Linked DNA regions of Homo sapiens. The protein of the gene in region 2 binds, or shares a complex with, the protein of the main gene of each other region. Each region holds a gene or a part of one and is shown on either strand. Other genes may lie near its edges.

The links. The genes of interacting proteins can lie anywhere in the genome.
Region 1: the proteins of LLGL1 (region 2) and PARD6A are in contact, whole or in part, in a cryo-EM structure (PDB 8R3Y), measured with the Homo sapiens proteins. Residues at the interface, in NP_004131.4 of Homo sapiens: Lys657, Leu660, Arg665, Thr704, Pro705, Val706, Gln707, Arg708, Arg709, Ile710, Glu711, Pro712, Arg713, Met785, His786, Glu831, Thr850, Ala851, His852, Glu853, Gly854, Cys855, Arg856, Leu884, Lys906; in NP_058644.1 of Homo sapiens: His163, Leu169, Phe171, Tyr172, Ile173, Arg174, Asp175, Ser195, Arg196, Ile221, Lys226, Thr227, Leu228, Asp229, Gln230, Thr232, Asp233, Met234, Met235, Val236, Ala237, Ser239, His240.

What each region holds. Positions count from the first base shown.
Region 1 is NC_000016.10:67,656,315-67,663,291, forward strand, and holds PARD6A (partitioning defective 6 homolog alpha), read left to right. Parts: upstream 1-4,645; 5' UTR 4,646-4,724; coding exon 4,725-4,787; intron 4,788-5,140; coding exon 5,141-5,363; coding exon of another isoform or gene 5,364-5,396; intron 5,397-5,578; coding exon of another isoform or gene 5,579-5,581; coding exon 5,582-6,333; 3' UTR 6,334-6,460; downstream 6,461-6,977. Other genes in the region: CARMIL2 (capping protein, Arp2/3 and myosin-I linker protein 2), read left to right, coding at 110-331, 487-567, 925-1,002, 1,092-1,204; ACD (adrenocortical dysplasia protein homolog), read right to left, coding at 1,292-1,370, 1,448-1,539, 1,672-2,048, 2,241-2,327, 2,406-2,502, 2,614-2,765, 2,915-2,949, 3,061-3,105 and 4 more; ENKD1 (enkurin domain-containing protein 1), read right to left, coding at 6,847-6,977. UniProt on the Homo sapiens protein: Adapter protein involved in asymmetrical cell division and cell polarization processes. Probably involved in the formation of epithelial tight junctions.
Region 2 is NC_000017.11:18,221,811-18,228,638, reverse strand, and holds the start of LLGL1 (lethal(2) giant larvae protein homolog 1), read right to left. Parts: upstream 3,005-6,828; 5' UTR 2,957-3,004; coding exon 2,876-2,956; intron 1-2,875. UniProt on the Homo sapiens protein: Cortical cytoskeleton protein found in a complex involved in maintaining cell polarity and epithelial integrity. Involved in the regulation of mitotic spindle orientation, proliferation, differentiation and tissue organization of neuroepithelial cells.

The sequences.
Region 1 (6,977 bases), on a different chromosome or scaffold from region 2:
TGTGTGTGTTGGTAGTGGGAGCAGGGACAGGCAGGAGTTGGGTCAGACTGTTGTTCAGACCTATCGCCAATGCCTGACCAGGTCTTGGCTGACACCTTTCTCCCTACAGACCCTTCCTGCAGACCTGGCCCAGGGAGCCAGGGGCCTGAGTCTGCCACCTGGAAGACACTGGGGCAGCAGTTGAATGCGGAGCTCAGGAGCCGTGGTTGGGGCCAACAGGATGGTCCAGGCCCTCCCTCCCCTGGTCAAAGCCCAAGTCCCTGCAGAACCAGCCCCTCCCCAGACAGCCTGGGCCTCCCAGAGGACCCTTGCTTGGGCCCCAGAAATGAAGGTAGGCAGGCACCTGATTCCCCACCCCAATCCTGGCCTCGGGGCTGGAGGAGTTCCTGCTGGGAACTCAGCTCCTCTAAGGACCCTGAGGGTGGGAGGCAAGGGCTGGAGTGGGGGCAGCTGTTGGAATACCCCTGATTCCCTGGCCTCCCTCAGATGGCCAGCTGAGGCCGAGGCCTCTCTCGGCAGGGCGGCGAGCAGTGTCTGTGCATGAGGACCAGCTCCAGGCCCCTGCTGGTGAGGGGAGACACCTCCACGTGTGCTTGAATGCAGGAGATGTGGGAGGGTGGGCTTCTGGGGCTCCCTTCATAGCTTTGGTCCTTGGAGGGAGCCACCAGTGTGTGAGGTCTCAAGAAATCAGGGAGCCAGAAGACCAGGTGCAAGGGTTTGACAGCAAGCCCTTCCAACTAGCACTGGCTCCACTTCCCGAAGAGCAGCCTCTGCCAGGGGTGAGGACGCAGGGACGGGGGATGCTCTGAAGGCAGCAGTGTGTGTGAGTGCATGCTTATGTGCACTGGAGGTGGAAGAGAGGGGCAGGGGATGGACAGACCCCAAGCCTTAGCAACCCACCCCAAGCCTTTCTGTGTCCCTTAGAACGGCCCCTGAGGCTGCAGCGCTCCCCCGTCCTCAAACGCAGGCCAAAACTCGAGGCACCTCCATCCCCAAGCCTAGGTAAGAGGGGGTCCAGGCCAGCTGGGAGGGTGGCAGGACTGCTTAGCCCAGCCCTGACCCTTCCTCTCTCTCCCTCCCTCCCCTCACAGGATCTGGCCTTGGAACCGAGCCTCTGCCCCCACAGCCCACAGAGCCCTCCAGCCCTGAGCGGAGCCCACCCTCCCCAGCCACAGACCAAAGAGGCGGCGGCCCCAATCCCTGATCCTCTCCTCTCCTGCCGCATGAGATTATTTTATTAAAAAACTCAAAGGAAGCAGAGTGTGGAGCGGTATCTGTCCTGCGTGACGTCTCACATCGGAGTTGGCTCAGACCCTGGCTGTGCATCCATCAGAAAGTGCAAGGCCCAGGCCATGAGCTGGGGAGGAAGCCTGGAAAGAAACCACCGCTGCAGGTCAATGGAGCCTGGGACTAGTGACCAAGAGTTGGGGCAGACCCAGGCACTCACCTGACAGCTTGGACCCGAGCACAGAGGGACGTGCAGGGTGGCTCATACTCATACTGGAAGGCAGAACCATCACGATGCCTCTTTGGGGGTTCCTGAAAGGGGTATGGTGTCTGGGGAAGAGCTAACAAGGACCCCAACCCCATCCAAGGCTACCCATGCTCCCTCCCAGCTCTACCTCAGGCCTTCCTTGTTCTACCCTCCAGCTGCAGAGGGGCTATGCTCACCCAGACAGAGCAGGGCTCCTGGGCTCCCCTGGTAGCTCCGGTCCTGGGAAAAGGCGGCCGATTCTTGCAGGGCAACCCTACAAACTCCTTGAACTCCAGGCTAGGTTTCTGGGGCCTGGTCACAAGAGCCTGGTGTGGACTGGGGACATGGCTACGGGGTGAGAGACTGGGAGTGCAGCTCTGGAGTGGGGAGCTGGGGGTACGGCTGGCGTGTGGGGACCTGGGGGTCAGGGTGGCAGGGGCTGAGCAGATGGCTGGTGAGGGCTGGGAGCTGCTTCTCTGCCCTGGGTCTGGAGCAGCCAAGGACAGGGCAGGCAGAAGGCTGATGCTGGTACCACTTTCCTCGGATGACATGTGGCCGGGTAAGGCCGGGGTTCCTGAGGAGGAGGGGACTTATTGTAGGCACAGCCCTCTCCGCTCAGGGCAGCTGAGTGGCCTGCGAGCTCAGACAGGACTGCAGGGACCGTGTTCATCCCCCACCCACCGTGCACCTTTCACAGCATCCTGCGCAGCCCGGGAACCTGACTGACAGGCGGCAGTGAGTGCCTGTGACCTGTGCATCACCTCACCTGAGGAACTGGGTGAGGAAGGAGGAGAGGCTATGAGGGTCAGAGATAGGTCCTGCAGAGCCGGGTCTGGTGGGGGCAGCTCAGGGCCTGGGGGGTTCAGGAAGTCTTATCAGCACTGTGGACCTGGGCCCCAGGTATCCCCCCAACCTCTCCAGTCCCCCTTACCCTGTGTCCTCTGACAGGGGCCTAGAGAGCTCAGAATTAGCTGGTCATTCTCAGAGATGCACAGCATTGAGCTGGGGACAGTGTACACAGCTTCTCCCTGTGGGACATGAACTCTGTAGGACAGGCCCGTTTACTCTCATGTCCTGTGGGATATGACCCTTGCCCAACTCCTCACCCTGACATCTCCCAAGCAAATCCCCAGACTGACCGTGGCCTTGCATCGTGAGGCAGCCCAGTGGGTGACAGGGGGTGCTGTGCAAGGGCCCTCCAGTGTCAGGCAGCTTTCAGCCAGGCACACGAGTGCCCCCTGATGCTCCTGGTCCTCCCGCATTTCATCCAGAAGCTGGGACAGTGATAGGCCTGGGGACAGGGGACCATGGGATGAGTCAAGGCTTAAAGGGGAGGACCAGGAGGGTGAGGGGGAAGACAGCTTATTGAGGAAGCATAAGGTTAAGGCTGGAGAGATCACTGCACAGCGTGTTAGGATCACTGGTCAAGCTCTACAGTACCTGCATTGGACGAGGTGGACTCTGAAAGGTGCTCCCTACAGGAAGAGAGTGGCCAGGACTCAGGAACCATGCTGAGGCCTGTCTACCTAGATACACCATCCCCTCACCAAACAACACGTGGCCCCCGAGCCCAACCCCAGACTCACTCAAGGCAGTCATAGAGCTTTTTCTGAACATCTAAGTCTTGGTTGCTAAGAAAAAGAGAAGGGTAGTTAATGGGGGCCCAAGCCCTCCTACCCCATAGGCGTCTGCCAGCGCCGGCCAGGCTGGGGTGGGGAGAGCTGCTGGAGGGCGGAGGCATCACTTACCAACCAGGCACCCGTAGCCGGGGCTGCTCCGTGGGCAGCAGGCTGAAGCGGTCCACCTGGAGATAGAACTCTGCGGGCTGGAGGAGTTCGGGGGGAAGGGGGGGTCTCAGAATCGTCACGAAGAGTCATGCCCGGTAACCCGCCCAAGGCAGTCTCACCACTCACCGCGCCGCCCTCAGCGACCTGGACATGAACCCCGCAGTCCTGCAGCAGCAGCAGCCGGCCCTCTGTCCCGCGGAAGCCGAACTCCTTCTCCTCCCTGCAACAAGCAGGATCCTCACTGCCGGGCCCACCTGAACACAAGGCCCGCCCACCTCGCGCTCTCCTGCCGGACTCCGACCTCCAGAGCCGCGCGGGGCCTCTCACCAGTCCGAGGTGTCCAGGGCCTCCCGCGTCACCAGGCATCGGACACTGTGGGTCCCGTCAGACACAAGCAGCGTGGCCCCGACGTCGGACGTATCAGGGGCGTGGGATGGGCCCGCGACCGCGGCCTCGGCGTCCTGTAGTACCTGACGGCGGCGAGCGGCGTCAATCCCACCACCCCGGGCCTCCGCCTCGGTCTCCGGGCCCTGAATGGGGGCTCACCTCAAGCAGCTGCCCGGCTCGTGGACTGGAGGGTGTCTCTGACCCCAGAATCAGCTCCCGAATCCAGGGCCGTAGGACCAGCCTCCCCGAACCTGCCATCCCCACGGCTACACCCAGCGGATGCAACGGGCCCGGGTTTCCCGCGGGCGCCCAGGCCCCGCCTTTCCTCGGAAGAGGAAGCTCCTTCGCTGGGCGGGGCCGGAGGAGGAGGCCCCGCCCACGTACACCCCGCGCCTGCGCACGAGGGCGTCCTGCTCGGGGGCCTGTGTGCAGACTCCCGCTGGTCCACCCCGCTGGTGCACGGGATGCTGGCCCGTTTACTCTCATCGCGGCGTCACTCTGACAGCGGCCAGGCATTTGGGCCGTTCGTCAAGATTCCTGTGGTACCGGTAGGGAACAGAACAAGGGCTGGTCCCGTCCCTGGAGAGGGTTCCAGGGCCGGAGGCTGAGGCCGAGTGCCGTCCGAGCGAGTTGACTCGAAACCATTTCAGCACCGTGTGACCCCCGAACGGTTCAGCACATATTTATTATGACTCAGTTTCCTCATCTACACAGTGCACGGTCTTGTAAGGCCAGTGGAAATAAGAGCACACACACAGCGCTAAATAAATGGTACTTCCTTCGCCCTCCCCTCGGATTGGCGGAGCCCTGCTCCCCAGACTCCGGGGGCGCGCGGACCTCAGCGTGATGACGCAAGAGCGGAGGACGGCTCCTCTCCATCCACGGCTCCGTTTCCTAGGAAACGTGGACTCCGCGTTCCACTCTGCGTCGCTGCCCCCTTGACGTCACGCTCCGGATGGGAAGGCGGGGCGTGTGCTACCGCCAGGGGCGGGGCGGCGCGGGCGGGCCGGCCGGGCTGTGCACCTGCGCCTCGGCGGGCCGCCTGGGGCACCGTCCCCGGCCCGCCCGGCCCCGCCATGGCCCGGCCGCAGAGGACTCCGGCGCGCAGTCCCGATAGCATCGTCGAGGTGAAGAGCAAAGTAAGGGCTCCTCCGGCCTCGGCCCTAGGCGCTCCCAATTCCCTCTTTCTCCCCTTCCCAGCTCCTTGGTCCCCGCCACCTCTTCCCTCTATCCTCCAAGTCCCATTCTGCTTTTCTGCTCGCCTTCCCCCATCCGTCTTCCTTCCTCCACTGCTGGTCTCCAGCTCTCTGTGGCCTGAGTACCTGGAGGGCGGTAAGAAGACCTTGGACAGCGTCCCTGGTACTGGAGCTGAGGTCTGGGCTTAAGGCTGCCGCAAAAGCGGCAGCCGCATCTTTCCCATTCCTGCCAGCCTGCGGTGAGAAAGGGGCGCAGGCTGTCCTGACTCCTCCTCTCCCCCAACCCCGACTTCCAGTTTGACGCCGAGTTCCGACGCTTCGCGCTGCCTCGCGCTTCGGTGAGCGGCTTCCAGGAGTTCTCGCGGTTGCTGCGGGCGGTGCACCAGATCCCGGGCCTGGACGTGCTACTTGGCTATACGGATGCTCATGGCGACCTGCTGCCCCTCACCAACGACGACAGCCTGCACCGGGCCCTGGCCAGCGGGCCCCCGCCACTGCGCCTACTGGTGCAGAAGCGGGGTGAGGAGGGGTACAGTGGGCAGCCTCTGTGGGGTAAGGTGTCTGTGGGGCAGGTCTACAAGGGTTAGTCCATGCCCAGGGTACCCAAGCGTCACCCTCTGCAGTCCCTGCCCTTGGCTTGACCTCTAAGTGGTAGGAAATAGCTACAGTGCCCCCTGTAAACAGCCCAAGTCGGGGAGCAGGTCTCTGATCTCAACATCCCCCCTCTTCTGCAGCAGAAGCTGACTCCAGCGGCCTGGCTTTTGCCTCCAACTCTCTGCAGCGGCGCAAGAAAGGGCTCTTGCTGCGGCCAGTGGCACCCCTGCGCACCCGGCCACCCTTGCTAATCAGCCTGCCCCAAGATTTCCGCCAGGTTTCCTCAGTCATAGACGTGGACCTACTGCCTGAGACCCACCGACGGGTGCGGCTGCACAAGCATGGTTCAGACCGCCCCCTGGGCTTCTACATCCGAGATGGCATGAGCGTGCGTGTGGCTCCCCAGGGCCTGGAGCGGGTTCCAGGAATCTTCATCTCCCGCCTGGTACGTGGGGGTCTGGCTGAGAGTACAGGGCTGCTGGCGGTCAGTGATGAGATCCTCGAGGTCAATGGCATTGAAGTAGCCGGGAAGACCTTGGACCAAGTGACGGACATGATGGTTGCCAACAGCCATAACCTCATTGTCACTGTCAAGCCCGCCAACCAGCGCAATAACGTGGTGCGAGGGGCATCTGGGCGTTTGACAGGTCCTCCCTCTGCAGGGCCTGGGCCTGCTGAGCCTGATAGTGACGATGACAGCAGTGACCTGGTCATTGAGAACCGCCAGCCTCCCAGTTCCAATGGGCTGTCTCAGGGGCCCCCGTGCTGGGACCTGCACCCTGGCTGCCGACATCCTGGTACCCGCAGCTCTCTGCCCTCCCTGGATGACCAGGAGCAGGCCAGTTCTGGCTGGGGGAGTCGCATTCGAGGAGATGGTAGTGGCTTCAGCCTCTGACAGTCAGGATGAAGCCCCATGCCACTCCACACTGCTGGGACATGGCAGGGACTTCACAGTGGGGGTTTTTAGCTGGCTCACAGGGCTCCCTCAGCCTGGGGAACATTAAAGGTTTTCTACAAATACAGTCATGGTCCTTGTGTGTCCCAGTTCCAGCCTCCTCCCTGGTCTCACCAGCTTGCCTTCTGCTCTGGACTAAGGCAGGAGTGACATTGGGGAGAACTTCCTGCAATCAAGCAGCAGGAGGGCCACCAGGCTTGGCATTTTTAGGGTAAGAAAAGCTCTTATGGAAACAAATCCTGTGTACAAAATGTTTAATTTTGACAAAGCAGTTAAAAGGCTAGGGTGGCCCTTCTGCAGCCACTGGTGACTGGGAAGAGTGCTCTAGGGACACTGGCCACCCCCCTGCTCCTGTCTTCAGACCTCTGCTCTGGGATTGGGTCCAACCCTGTCCTTTGCAGCCATGTGGCGATCCTCAGCATGGAGCTCCTTGCCACTGTCCCCCAAAGGGGCTCAGTCGTCCATCTTCACGAAGACTTTGGGCCGAGAAAAGATCTTGATGGCCTCCTCTACCTGCACCAGCTTCCGGTCCAGCTCAGCACGGTGGCTCTGGGCTCTCAGTGAGTCTGCCCCAGCAGGCAGCA
Region 2 (6,828 bases):
ACAAACGAGGAAAGGAGGTTACATGCACTGTCCAGCATCTGCTTCCCTCATACCCCACGTCCAGTCCATTTCTGAGCCCCATCAACTCAGTTTCAAAACACACAGAAGTCACCTCCCTCCCTGCTCCAGGCCCCACCGTCACGTGCCTGGATTGGTACTCACTACAGTCTGTTCCCACAGAGGCCAGAGGGATCCTATGAAAGCCACAGCCAGATCCTTGTCCCTCCCCTGCTCAGGATCCTCCTGGGGCTCCCAGCTAAGGGAGGCTTGTGCCTCAGGGCCTTTGCACCTACTGCCCCTCTGCCTGGAACGCACTTCCTCCAGCACTTCCTGTCGCTCAGGAGTAATCTCCTCAGAGAAGCCTCCCAAGGCCACCCTGGCTGCAGCAGCCGCCCTGGCCACACCTCTCACCCCCTCGCCCTACTTTATTTGATCCACAGCACTGGCTACCATCCCAACTACAGTCTATTTTACTTTTTTGTTTTGGCTTTTCACTGTCTCCTGCACAACTATATCAGCCACCTGAGTTAACAGGTATTTGTCCTTTTTGGTAACTACTGTTGTCCCCAGCACCTTGGAGACCTCACACACAGTGGGGCTCAGTATTAACAGAGAAGGCACATTCCACAGGCGATGTGTGGGCTGGACTGGGATTTGAACCCAAGACTCAGAGTCCAAAGTCCCTGCTCACTCCTGACCTGTCTCCCACCCCCTAAGCTCAGGAATCAGGGGCCTATTCCCTAGCGATCACCTATTACCCACTTAGGTGACTAAGTCCCTTCCCCAAGACCACCCCACTTTCCACCACTGCTGCCCACGCTTCATCCTCAGCGGAGGGCCCTTACTTTCCGCCACCCCAAGGCTAGCCAGAGTGGGCTGAGCTTCACCCCCATCTGTCTCCAGCCCCCACTGCACACCCCAATTCACTGGCTGAAGAAATGACATTTAGGCCAGGCATGGCAGCTCATGTCTGTAATCCTAGCACTTTGGGAAGCCAACATGGATGGATAGATAGCTTGAACCCAGGAGTTCGAGACCAGCCTGGGCAACATGGTGAAACCCCATCTCTACAAAAAATACAAAAACTAGCCGGGCATGGTGACACGAGCCTGTAGTCCCAGCTTCAGGAGGCTGAGATGGGAGGATCACCTGAGCCAGGGAGTTGTGAGGCTGCAGTGGACTGTGATTGTGCCACTGCACTCCAGCCTGGGTGAGAGTGAGACCCCATTTCAAAAAAAAAAAAGTGACATTTAGCCCTGTGCCTGTTGCTGCCTTTCCCTGAAGGGCCATTCTCCTCTCACCTCACCCTCACAGCCTCCCCGGCACAGAAAATAGGTGCCATCTGGGGACCACGGAGCACCAGCTTCCCTTCTGGGCCCCTCTCAGGTTCCTAGCAGGTTCTCAGCCACCGTGTGAGGGTCCTGGCAGCTCTCATCGGCAATCACTGCAGACCTAGGCAGGGAAACCCTGAGACATCCCAGTGCCTCCACTACTCCAGGTCCAGCCGTCCCAGAGCCTCCTCCAAGACAAGTGTCTCCTCAAGGCAGCCCAGGGCGCCTGGCACAACACTGGCCCAGGACCACAGCAGCCCCTTGGAAAAATCCCTGCCCCTCAAGGCTAAAATCCAACCCCACTGACACAAGAACTCAAGAAAGATATTGGTGCAGCTCACTCTGACTCCGGGCAAGCCGTCACCCCTCTCAGAACCTCAATTTTCTCACCTGTATTTTGAAGATAACTCTAATTTCGAAGAGCACTGAGAGGCTCTGCCATCAGTGGGCTCTGGGGTAAGAATGAGGACAAAACCAACGTCCCCAGAGCAGTGAGCCAGGAGTGGGCTGAGGCCCTGCTCTAACATCAGTGCAGAGGGAGGCGGGGGCTGAGGCGGCCCCTTTCCCTGGCCCCTAGTGTCCCACTCCGGGAAAGGAAGGAAAAGCCTCCACCTCACTCCACCTTGGTGCAGAAAGGCAGGACAGCTGGCCCATGTGGCAGAGGGAGCCAGGGCCCACAGTATGGAGAAAAGTAGCCTCATTTCACAGCTAGGGAAACTGAGGCCCCACGATGCGAAGTGCAGTGTAGTACACAGCCAGGCATGTCCCCTGGACTCGGAGCCCCGGGCAGGGCAGAGCAGGGCAAGGCAGAGCCTGGAGCAGTGGGGGAAGGAAGGAGAGGCTCCTTGAAGGGATTTCCCAGCCGCACCCCCCACAGCTGCCTCGCCCCCACTAACTCTCTCACCCTCCTGGGTGCCAAAGCACAAAACAAACCGGGCCCCAGGGCTGTCCCAAGGGCCGAGCAGGGACGCAATGGAGCCCCTAAGAAAAAGGATAAAGAGACAGAAGTGAGCGACAGAGGTCGAGAGACTCCACAGAGACAGAGAGAGAGACACGCAGGGAGAGACAGGCAAAGAAGACTCAGAGACGCACAGGCAGCAAGAGAAATGAGAGGCAGAGAGATAAAGGGAGACAGGCAGAGATAGGAAGGGGCAGAGGCAGAGACACCCCCACCACACACACAGGCACAACTGGGGCGAGACAGCCGGTCAGCGGCGGAGAAAGAGGGACAGAGACCCAGAGACAGGCAAAGAGTCTCAGAGACAGACCCCCACACACACAGACTGGCAGAGCCAGGGCCAGAGCGGCCCGCAGAGACTCGGGGAGCAGACACGGAAAGTCGGCCGGAGACCCAGACCCACCCAGAGTCCGAGCCAGAGCGGGGCCCGCCGAGGGGGTGCGCGGCCCGGCCCGGCCCCGCCCCGCGCCGCGCTGCATGCCAGCCCCCGCCCCCCGGGCCCGACGTGGCTCCGACCCCGGGCCCCCAGCCCAGGCCCCCGTCCCGCCCCCTCCCGCCCGAGCCCGGGCCCGGGCCGCCGCCGCACCTTGTTGAAGGCGAAAAGCTCCTGCTTGAGCTTCTCGCGCTGCGGGTCGGCGCCCTGCCGCCGGAACCGAAACTTCATCATCTTGCGCCCGGCTGCAGGCGCCTCGCCCGCCGCCGCCGCCCGCAGGATGCGCCGCGCGGCCCCGCGGGTCCTAAGGCGCGGGCGGGGCGCCAGGCGGCCCGGGCGCGGGCGCGCGGGGCCGGGCCTGCACGGGGGTGGGCGCCGGGCGCGACGGACGCGCCGCCCGACCAGTGAGCGAGCCCGCCGTGCCGCCCGCCCCGCCCCTGTTGGCCAGACAATGGTGAACTGGGCCCCCGGGCTCGGCCGGGCTCGCGAAGGGACGCCCGCCTAGCATGCGCCGCGGCGCGGGGCCTGCCGGGACTTGTAGTCCATGAGCCGGGGCTCCAGCGCGGGCGGCTGGGGAAGCGCTTTGGAGGGGGATTGGCGCACGTTCCCGGGCTTGGAGGAGACTTTTTCCTCCTCCCAGAGAGCGAGCGACGTGCCCACTCATGTAATGGGGCAGCCCTGTTCCGAAAGCCAAGACAGCTCTGACTGGAACAACTCCCTGGCCCCTCTGCGCCTCAGTTTCCCCATCTACACCATTGGTCAAGTGATTGCCAAGTTTATATTTTACCAATTTCACAGAACTCCATTTCGTCTGTTCCCCGCTCTGTCAGAGCACCTCCCACCGCCGTGCTTTTGCCTTGGCTTTGTAGTCAGGAATTCTTTCCTCACCCCCAGCCCCTGGGGAACTCCTACACATCTTTCAGGACCCAACGCAAAAGGCTCTGTGTCACAGCACAGGGGATTCTTTCTTAGCCAAAGAAAGAGACGGGATCCCCAGGAGGTGGCATTTGGGACTGTTCTGGGGTTGGATTGGAGCTTTACGGAGATGGGGGAAGGACCTCCCCCCGCAGAGAACAGCGTCTGAACAAAGCTTAGCCCTGCCCCTACTCTCAGGGGCCGTCTGCCTGTCCCCACCCACCTCCCAGGCCTTTTCTCATCTGGACAATGGCCTCGAGGCTGAACCTTTCCTTCCAGGCTGAGGATAGGCCGCCTGGCTCAGGGCTGGGGCTGCGGGAGGTCCTAGAAGCTTAGGTGGGGCAGGTAGGACAGGCCCCAACCCCACCAGCTGTGTCCAGGGAGCAGGAGCTGACCTCTGAGCCCGAGGCGGCTGCCAAGCCTTGGGGCCTGGCTGTCCCCCTCCACCCACGCCAGGCCGGCGGTGTTCAGCCCTTCCCCGTATTTGGGGCTGGATCCGGAAGAGGGCCCAGGAGTGAGTGAGGAGGTGAGAGGAGGGAGAATGACGACAGTAAAGCCCCTAAGTGTCTACTGCGGGGCAGGCGCTGTTCAAAGCCCTTTCCTGGTTTCAGCTGACTTAGTGCTGTCAGTAGCTCTACGAGGGAGCCAACAATATTACCCATCCCAAATGAGGAAGCTGAGACCATCAGCCAAAGGCTGTTAGTTGTTGGCAGAGCTGCTGGACTGAGGAGGATGAGACCCCTTTGGCCACTGGCCACGCCACACCAGCACAGGCAGCAGGGACAGCTCAGAGGTCTGGGTTCTGGTCCCTGCCCTGCCTCACACAGGAAGTGTTAAGAAGTTGCTGGCTGGGCGCGGTGGCTCATGCCTGTAGTCCTAGCACTTTGGGAGGCCTTGGAGGGAGGATCTCTTGACCCCAGGAGTTTGAGACCTGACTGAGCAGTAGGGTGAGATCTCATCTCTACAGAAAAAAAATAAATAAATATTTTTTTAATTAGCTGGGCATGGTGGCCCAGCTGTAAATTCCAGCTACTCAGGAGGTTGAGGCAGGAGGATGGCTTGAGCCCAGGAGGTTGAGGCTGCTGTGAGCTGTGATCGTGCCACTGCACTCCAGCCTGGGCAACAGAGCAAGACCATCTCGAAAAAAAGGCCAGGAGCAGTGGCTCACACCTGTAATCCCAGCGCTTTGGGAGGCTGAGGCGGGCAAATCACTTGAGGTCAGGAGTTTGGGAAAAACCCAGTCTCTACTAAAAATACAAAAAATAGCCGGGCATGGTGGCAGGTGCCTGTAGTCCCAGCTACTTAGGAGGCTGAGGCAGGAGAATCGCTTGAACCCAGGAGGTGGAGCTTTCAGTGAGCCGAGATCATTTGCTCTCCAGCCTGGGCAACAAGCGTGATAAATGAAAAAAACAAACAAACAAACAAAAAAAAAACGTTGATTCACATTCCCACTTTACCATTTGGAAGCTATGTGACCTGGAACAAGTTACCTCAAATTCTCTGTGCCTCAGTTTCCTCATCAGTAAAAATGGTGATAATATTAGTATTTACCTCAAAGGGTTGTTGTGGAGATTAAATGTGTCAGGGTAATATGAACCAGAGCAACTCCATCTTGAATAGGAGGTGGGTAAAATGAGGCTGAGACCTACTGGGCTGCATTCCCAGATGGTTAAGGCATTCTAAGTCACAGGATGAGCTAGGAGGGGGTCGGCACAAAATACAGGTCATAAAGACGTTGCTGATAGAACAGATTGCAGTAAAGAAGCTGGCCAAAACCCACCAAAACCAAGATGGCCACGAGAATGACCTCTGGACATCCTCACTGCTACACTCCCATTAGCGCCATGACAGTTTACAAATGTCATGGCAACGTCATGAAGTTACTCTATATGGTCTAAAAAGGGGAGATATGAATAATCCACGTTTAGCATATCATCAGGAAATGACCACAAAAATAGGCAACTTGGCCGGGCACGGTGGCTCACGCCTGTAATCCTGGCACTCTGGGAAGCCGAGGTAGGTGGATCACCTGAGGTCAGGAGTTTGAGACCAGCCTGACCAACATGGAGGAACCCCATCTCTACTAAAAATACCAAATTAGCCGGGCATGGTGGCACATGCCTGTAATCCCAGCTACTCGGGAGGCTGAGGCAGGAAAATTGCTTGAACCCGGCGGGCGGAGGTTTCAGTGAGCCGAGATTGCACCACTGCACTCCAGCCTAGGCAACAAGAGTGAAAATCCATCTCAAAAAAACAAAGGACAACTCTGCCTATGGAGTAGCCTTTTTTTCCTTTTTCTTTTCTTTTTTCTTTTTTTTTTTTTGAGATGGAGTCTTGCTGTGTTACCCAGATTGCAGTACAGTAGCACTATCTTGGCTCACTGCAGCCTCTGCCTCCCAGGTTCAAGTGATTCTCCTGCCTCAGCCTCCCAAGTAGCTCGGACTATAGGCATGCGCCACCACACTCAGCTAATTTTTGTATTTTTAGTAGAGACCGGGTTTCACCATGTTGACCAGGCTGGTCTTGAACTCCTGACCTCAGATGATCCGCCTGCCTTGGCCTCCCAAAGTGCTGGGATTACAGGCATGAGCCGTTGCACCCGACACCCAATCTCCATTTTTCTTTTTCTTTTTCTTTTTTTTGAGACAGAGAGACAGAGTTTCACTCGGTCGCCCAGGCTGGAGTGCAGTGGTACAATCTCAGCTCACTGCAACCTTTGCCTCCCAGGTTCAAGCGATTCTCCTGCCTCAGCCTCCTGAGTAGCTGGGACTATAGGTCTGTGCCACCATGCCCAGCTAATTTTTTGTATTTTTAGCAGAGACGGGTTTTCACCGTGTTAACCAGGATGGTCTCGATCTCCTGACCTCGTGATCTGCCTGCCTTGGCCTCCCAAAGTGCTGGGATTACAGGTGTGAGCCACCGCACCCAGCCAGCAGTCCCCATTTTTCAATGGGACTTGGTTATTAGGCAGTAAGCAGCCATGCCTTTCCCAACCCCTATCTCACAGTTTTTTGGGGAGCAGGGCAACAGAACTGAGTCGAGACCACAGCTAACCATAGCTCACCGTCCTATGATGGGGCATGCACTGGGGCTGTGGGAGCCCAGAAGAGGCATCTGGCCCAGGGTCAGTGTCCTGCTGGGAGAGGACAGTGCACATGGGTTGTAATGGGTAAGGAGTGTACCTAGTGGAA